Homo sapiens: one gene and its partner. The protein of the gene in region 2 purifies or fractionates together with the protein of the main gene of each other region. This does not show direct contact. Each region holds a gene or a part of one and is shown on either strand. Other genes may lie near its edges.

Evidence for each region.
Region 1: the proteins of CYTH3 (region 2) and FBLN5 purify together in Homo sapiens (co-immunoprecipitation; one large-scale study listed by IntAct). This does not show direct contact.

What each region holds. Positions count from the first base shown.
Region 1 is NC_000014.9:91,868,911-91,872,122, forward strand, and holds the end of FBLN5 (fibulin-5 isoform 1 precursor), read right to left. Parts: intron 1,476-3,212; coding exon 1,314-1,475; 3' UTR 501-1,313; downstream 1-500. UniProt on the Homo sapiens protein: Essential for elastic fiber formation, is involved in the assembly of continuous elastin (ELN) polymer and promotes the interaction of microfibrils and ELN. Stabilizes and organizes elastic fibers in the skin, lung and vasculature.
Region 2 is NC_000007.14:6,262,447-6,266,266, reverse strand, and holds part of CYTH3 (cytohesin-3), read left to right. Parts: intron 1-3,820. UniProt on the Homo sapiens protein: Promotes guanine-nucleotide exchange on ARF1 and ARF6. Promotes the activation of ARF factors through replacement of GDP with GTP. Plays a role in the epithelial polarization.

The DNA of each region.
Region 1 (3,212 bases), on a different chromosome or scaffold from region 2:
CCACCTCTCTTTCTAGGGTTTATAACAATACATTCTCAACTCTGGCTACATAGTCAAGTTTTCAAAAATCCTGATGGCCGGGCCCTACCTAAGCCCAATGACATCAGAGTGTCTGGGGGCATGTCCCGGGGAATCAATCTTTCCTCCAAAGTTCTACTGGTTATCCGTCTATGCAGCCAGGGTTGAAGGCCACTGGTTTAAAGTAACTTGAATACATTCCTGTTCTGCAGGAGCACCGGAAATAATCTACGTAAGAGAAGGATTGTTGGTTGTTTTCTAATCAGATGAAACAGGACTCAGGGATGATGCCTCCCCCTAACTTCCCCACGACCCCTATTTCTCTGCCCCACCGCCCCCCTCCCATCAATTTGCCAGAGTCACAGATAATGCCCTAGCTCTCTGGAGAGCTTTCTAAGCCAGCGCACAATAAACAGGTTTAAACAGAACTAGAACCCCAAAGGCTGACTCGTCTATGATGTCAAAATGAACCAAACACAAGCTCTCTTCAAATATTTAATCAGTTTGGAGACCTCTGCATTCCAATCCAATTGGGTAAAAATTCTAAAGAAAGCAAGATTAAGGGGTCCTCAAAGAAAACACTGGGCTAAAATGGAGAGGAGACTGGGTTTGGGAAGACAGAACATAGCATGTGTCTGAAGGCCTTTCGAAGGAATTCTACGACATATTTTTTAAAAATACTCAAAATGAACAAGACAGAATTAAACCGTTATACAAATTTAAGGACAACTGAAACTTCTTTTATGGTTGAAAATACCAGGCATGGTTTTGAAACACATTCTCTAAAAACCCTTCGATCCTGCTGTGGTTTGTTTACATAGCCTTCTCTGTGTACGCAAAAAGCAAACTAGCTACTCCCAGGGTTCCCCGCCAGCTCCCGGGTCTTTGCAAAGCAGTAACACAGTGAGAGAAGGAGTGGAAGAGGTGAAGAAGTGACAGCAAGCTGTTCACAGTCTTTGAACATAGACTCAGACCCCCGCAAACCTAATCTATTTTCTTTGAAAATAGTGGAAATAAACTGAAGGCCTTGAAAATTCACCAACAATCTTCTATCAGGGGAGCAATGATAATACTTTTTGATAACTGTGTCATAGGAACTGGGGGTGGCAAGTCCTGCAGGGTGACAGGTCTGCAATAGTACAGGTGAGAGTCAGGAAGTCGGGGCTGACTCTTCGGGGAAACGTTCAGCAGGAAATGCCTAACGTCTGTGTCGCTCTCATTCTCTCTGTTATTTCCTCTCTTCTCCTGTCCCTTGGTGCCAATGAGAGGCAGCGTCGGAGGCTCCAGCCCGAGGCTCAGAATGGGTACTGCGACACATATATCCGCAGTCGGATCACGGAGCTGCCTCTGAAGTTGATGACAGTGTTGACAGTGATCATTTCCAAGTCCAGCTGGATTTCCCGGGGCCCTTTGATGGGGCGTGTCATCACCAGGGTGGCACTGATGGGGCCCGTTTGCTATGGACAGAACCGGGGAACACCAGTGAGAAAAGGCCTGCATGGTGGCCCTGCAGCCCCACCTGGGCGCTCCCTTGCCTCCGTCAGTCAAACTGGCACCCCCTCGGTGCCTCAACTGTGCCATGCTCTTTCCCTGGCTTTGCCCACTCTCCACCTGGTTCTTTTCTGCAAACCCTTCAGGTCTCATCTGAAAGGTCACTTCCTAAGAGGAGCCTTCTCTGGTTCCCCAATCTAAGTCAGGTCCCCCTGCGACCTCTGACGCTGCAGCCTTTACTTTGTACAGGATGGAAAGCATTTATGACCATGTATGATTGTCCATACTGTCTACCTGATCCGTGTCTGATATCTAGGCTCCCACTAGGCTATGAGTTCTGTAAGAACAGGTACTGGGGTCAGGCTTTTCACCACTGAGTCCCCCTAGAAGCCAGCATGGTGCCTTGAACACAGAAGGTGTTCAGAAAACATATATTGAATGATGAACGAATCATTGATTGAAACTTCTGCATGGCTTAGGGCTGTCACTTCACCCCTCTGGGGCTCATCTCTCAAATGAGGGTTTGGCATTGAGTACATACACATGGACACAAAGAAGGGAAAAACAGGCACCAGGGCCTGCTTCAGGGTGGGAGGCAGGAGGAGGGAGGGGATTGAAAAACTACCTACTGGGTACTATGCTTATTACCTGGGTGATGACATCATATATACACCAAACTCCTACGACACAGTAATTTATCTATACAACCAACATGCACATGTACTCTTGAAAGTGGAATAAAAGTTTTAAAAAACGTTTTTGAGGAAAAATAAAATGAGGGTTTGGACCAGATCAGTAATTTAAAAAAAAAAAAAAAAAGGCATCAAAGGCTACTGGAACTTTTTTTGTTAAACTAACAATTCCAGGGGCCCATTCCAAGATTTTCTATGTCAGTATATTTTTAGGTGATGCCTGGGAAAGGTGGAATTTAAGAACCCCCCTCTAGGCACCCTAGAGTCATCTCCAGCTTCACCATTCTGTAACCTGATCACTGTGGTCCTAATAATTTCGCGTGAACTCTCTCCTCCACTGAGTCTTTTTCTAAAACTTTCAAGGAGGAAGGCAGAGAGGAATGACATCAACTGAGCACCCATCATGTGTGAGGCACTCTTCTAACCATGTTTATGTACATCTGCTTATTTAATCCTCATAAAATGGCCAGGCACCATGGCTCACAACTGTAATCCCAGCATTTGGGAGGCCGAGGTGGGCGGATCACTTGAGGCCAGGAGTTGGAGACCAGCCTGGCTGATATGGTGAAACCCCATCTCTACTAAAACTAGAAAAATTAGCAGGGCATGTTGGCAGGTGCCTGTAATCCCAGCTACTTGGGAGGCTGAGGCACAAGAATTGCTTGAACCTGGGGGGCAGAGGTTGCAGTGAATAGAGATCGCACCACTATACTCCACCCTGGACAACGGCGAGACTCCAGCTAAAAAAAAAAAAAAAAATTCTCATAAAACCCTGAAAGGCCTTGCCACTCAAAGTGTGGTCCCTGGACCAGCAGCATGGGCATCACCAGGGAGCTTCTTATAAATGCAGAATCTCAGGGCTAGGATCTACTGAGCCAGAATCTGTGGCTTAACACAATCCCCAGGGCTTTGTGTGCACATTAAGTATTGAGAAATATTGATCTAAAAGCACAGGACCCAGGTGGGGGGGCCCTGGCTGTCCTTGTCTAAGTGCTGTATGAAAGGTATGAC
Region 2 (3,820 bases):
CCCAAGCCTTCCATTTCAGAATCCGTATTCTCAACCACTGCCCCCTGCTTTTTAAAGAAGCATATTCTTGACTCCTGAGTGGAGAGTGGTTTGGAGGAGAAGGGAGGACTTGGGAGAAGGGAGGTGTTGCAGTGGTTCAGGTGAGAGTTACGGGGCTTGGTGGGTTAGGGTGGTAGTGGGAAATATGGAGGGAAGGATATATATAAAACACATCTGTATAAAACATACAGAAAAGTACAAAGAATAATGAAACCAGCACTCTTGTTCCCACTACTCAGAATTGACATAATAGCTGTCAATGTTCTGTTGCATTTTTTAGGTCCGTTTTTTAAAAAATAAAGCATTACTGGTAAGTCTCTCCATCTCAGTATATTGTGGTGTTCTTCCAGTTGCTCAGGCCAAAATTTTGGTGCCATCTTTCACTTCTTTTGCCTTAAGCCTTCTCATGGTTCTCCCATTGTCATCCTTGTTCACACTGCAGCCAGGGCGATTCCCTTTGACACGCAGGTCATGTCACTCCTCTCTGAAAGTTTGCTCTTTCCTCGGTTTATTGAGAATCCTATTCTCAGACCACCTTACCATGGCCATGGCCCACACGCTGTAGTTTAGGGGCTGCAAGTTCTTCTTCTTCTTTTTTTTTTTTTTTTTGAAATGGAGTCTTGCTCTGTCACCTGGGCTGGAGTGCAGTGGAGCGATCTCGGCTCACTGCAACATCCGCTTCCTGGGCTCAAGTGATTCTCCTGCCTCAGCCTCCTGAGTAGCTGGGACTACAGGCGCGTGCCACCATGCCCGGCTAATTTTTTGTAATTTTTTTTTTTTAATAGATACGGGTTTCACCATATTGGCCAGGCTGGTCTTGAACTCCTGACCTCGTGATCTGCCTGCCTTGGCCTCCCAAAGTGCTGGGATTACAGGCATGAGCCACCACGCCCAGCCAAGCTTTTTTTTCATAAAAGGGCCGGATAGTAAACCTCATAGGCTTTGTGGGCCACATATGATCTCTGTCACAAGTCTTTTTTTTTTTCATAACCTTTTCAATATGTAAAAAACATTCTGACCTTGGGGACTGCCCTTGACTACTACTCTAGTCCCCTGCTATCTCTTTGACATTGTCTGTTGCTCCTCTCCCGTTTCCTCCCTGACTCTGCTCTGTCTCATTGGTCTCCTTGCCAAGCACACTCCTGCCTCAGTGCCTGTGCACTTGCTGCCCCTGTAGTGGTTTCCTCTTAGATACCTGCATGTGGTGTATCCTTGCTTCATTCAAGTTTGTGCTCAAATGTTTCCTTATCACAGAAGTCTTCCTTGACCAACCTATCTAAAATCACATTCATTGTTACTGTCAGCTCTATTTTTCTCCCTTAGCACATGTCACGCCTTACCTATTACATATTTGTTTCTTTTCTCTTACAATGTGAGTTCTGTGAAAGTAAGAATATTTTCTGCTTTTATCCAGTTATATCTCCAAGATCTAGAACAGTGCTTGGTACATAGTAGCCTTTCAGTAAATATTTGTTAATAAATACTGAATAAAGTTGAAGTCACTTGTGTCTAGCAATCCCTGGTCCTTTTGCTCTTTGCTTTCAATGTTTCTTAGAGGCAGCCATTATGAATTCGATATGGGGCCCTCTGGTGTATGGTGTTTTTGTTAGTTTTTTGAGATGGAGTCTCACTCTGTCACCCAGGCTGGAGTGCAGTGGTGTGATCGCAGCTCACTGCAATCTCCATCTCCTGGGTGCAAGCGATTCTTCTGCCTCAGCCTTCCGAGTAGCTGGGATTACAGGCAGGCGCCACCACACCCAGCTAATTTTTGTAATTTTACTAGAGACAGTGTCTCACCTTGTTGGCTAGGCTGCTCTCGAACTCCTGACCGCAAATGATCCACCCGCTTTGGCCTCCCAAAGTGCTTGGATTGCAGGCATGAGCCACCGTGCCCAGCCTGGTATATATTTCATACTTCAACAGATGTGCGTGTGCCTCTGTAAGCAATGTACAGGTCTCCTTTTTGTTTTTTTTTCTTTTGAGACGGAGTTTTGCCCTTGTTGCCCAGGCTGGAGTGCAATGGAGCCATCTTGGCTCACTGCAACCTCCGCTTCCTGGATTCAAGCGATTCTTCTGCCTCACCCTCCTGAGTAGCTGGGATTACAGGTGCCCGCCATCATGCCCAGCTAATTTTTGCATTTTTAGTAGCGATGGGGTTTCACCATGTTGGCCAGGCTGGTCTTGAACTTCTGACCTCAGATGATCTGCCGGCCTCAGCCTCCCAAAGTGCTGGGATTACAGGTGTGAGCAACCGCACCCGGCCCTAATTGGTTTTAAAAAGATTATAAAGCCGAGATCACACTGTATGTAATCTTCTGCAGCTTGCATTAGAGATTATCCTTGTGATTATATATAGACCTTGTTTAATTTAACTGCGATCACGTTTTGTCTATCTTGTCCTGTGTTGAACTTTTTTTTTTTTTTTCCTGAAGTTAGTGTCCTCACTCTGTTTCCCAGGCTGGAGTGCAGTGGTGTGATCTTGGCTCATTGAAACCTCTACCTCCCAGGTTCAAGCGATTCTTCTGCCTTAACCACTTGAGTGGCTGGGATTACAGGCTTGCAACACCATGCCCTGGTAAATTTTTAGTATTTTTAGTAGAGACAGGTTTTTGCTACGTTGGCCAGGCTGGTCTTGAACTCCTGACCTCAAGTGATCCGCCTGCCTCGGCCTTCCAAATTCTGGGATTACAGGTGTGAGCCACCGGGCCTAGCCCTGTGTTCAACTTTTTAATGTCAATGTTACACTGGTGGTGTTACAAACGGTACTGAGGTGAGCTCCCTAGTCTTCTCTCCCCTCACAAATGTGAGTTTATCTAGAGTATATTTCTAGAATTGCAGTTGTGAGTTATAGGCATGCTTCAGTTTTAATAGATAACAGATTGCTTTCTCATTAGGGGCTTGTGAGTAGTGTGATTTCCCAGCATTCTAATCAGCACACAGTGTTTGCCTTACTTTTAAATATTTACCTATCTCATGGGTAAGAAATGATGTATTGCTTTAATTTGTGTTGCTTTATAGTGACAAAATATATATTTTAAAAGCTGTTATATTAGGTTCAGGGGTACATGTGAAGGTTTCTCGTAAGTGAGCTCTTGTTATGGGATGGAATGTATTTTGGAGAATCAGATGGACATACTGTCAGCTTGGAGAAGGTTAGAGGTATAGAAACTGTAGGAATCAAATATGACTTTAGGTTTCTGGCTTGGTAGTGGTGTTGCTTAATGAACAGGGGAAAAAACTATTGTGAGGGTTCATTTTTTTTTTTGGTCAAAAATGCCTTTACTTTGCCTCCACTTAAACACAATTTTTTTATTAGAGTCGCGCTCTGTTGCCCAGGCTGGAGAGCAGTGACGCCATCATAGCTCACTGCAGCCTTGAACTCCTGGGCTCAAGCAGTCCTCCTGCCTCAGCCTCCCGAGTAGCTAGGACTACAGGCATGTGCCACTGTGCTAAGCTTGCCTCTGTTTTTGAAGGATAGTTTCATCAGGATTATAGTTGGAGGCTTTCAAGTTAATTTATTGCAGTTTTTAATTTTTTGTAAAGATGGGAGGTCTCACTATGTTGCTCAGGCTGGTGTTGAACTACTGGCCTCAAGTGATCCAAAGTGTTGGGATTACAGGCATCAGCCATTGAGCCTGGCCTTCCTACAGTGTTTTGAAGGGGTAGTTTTACTGCTTTCTGGCTTCCACTGATTCTGTGGAGAAGTCAGCTGCATCAGTCTTATTGTCACTCTTTTCCAGTTAGTGTGTTTTTTCTTCCCTTTAGGCTGCTTTTAAGATGT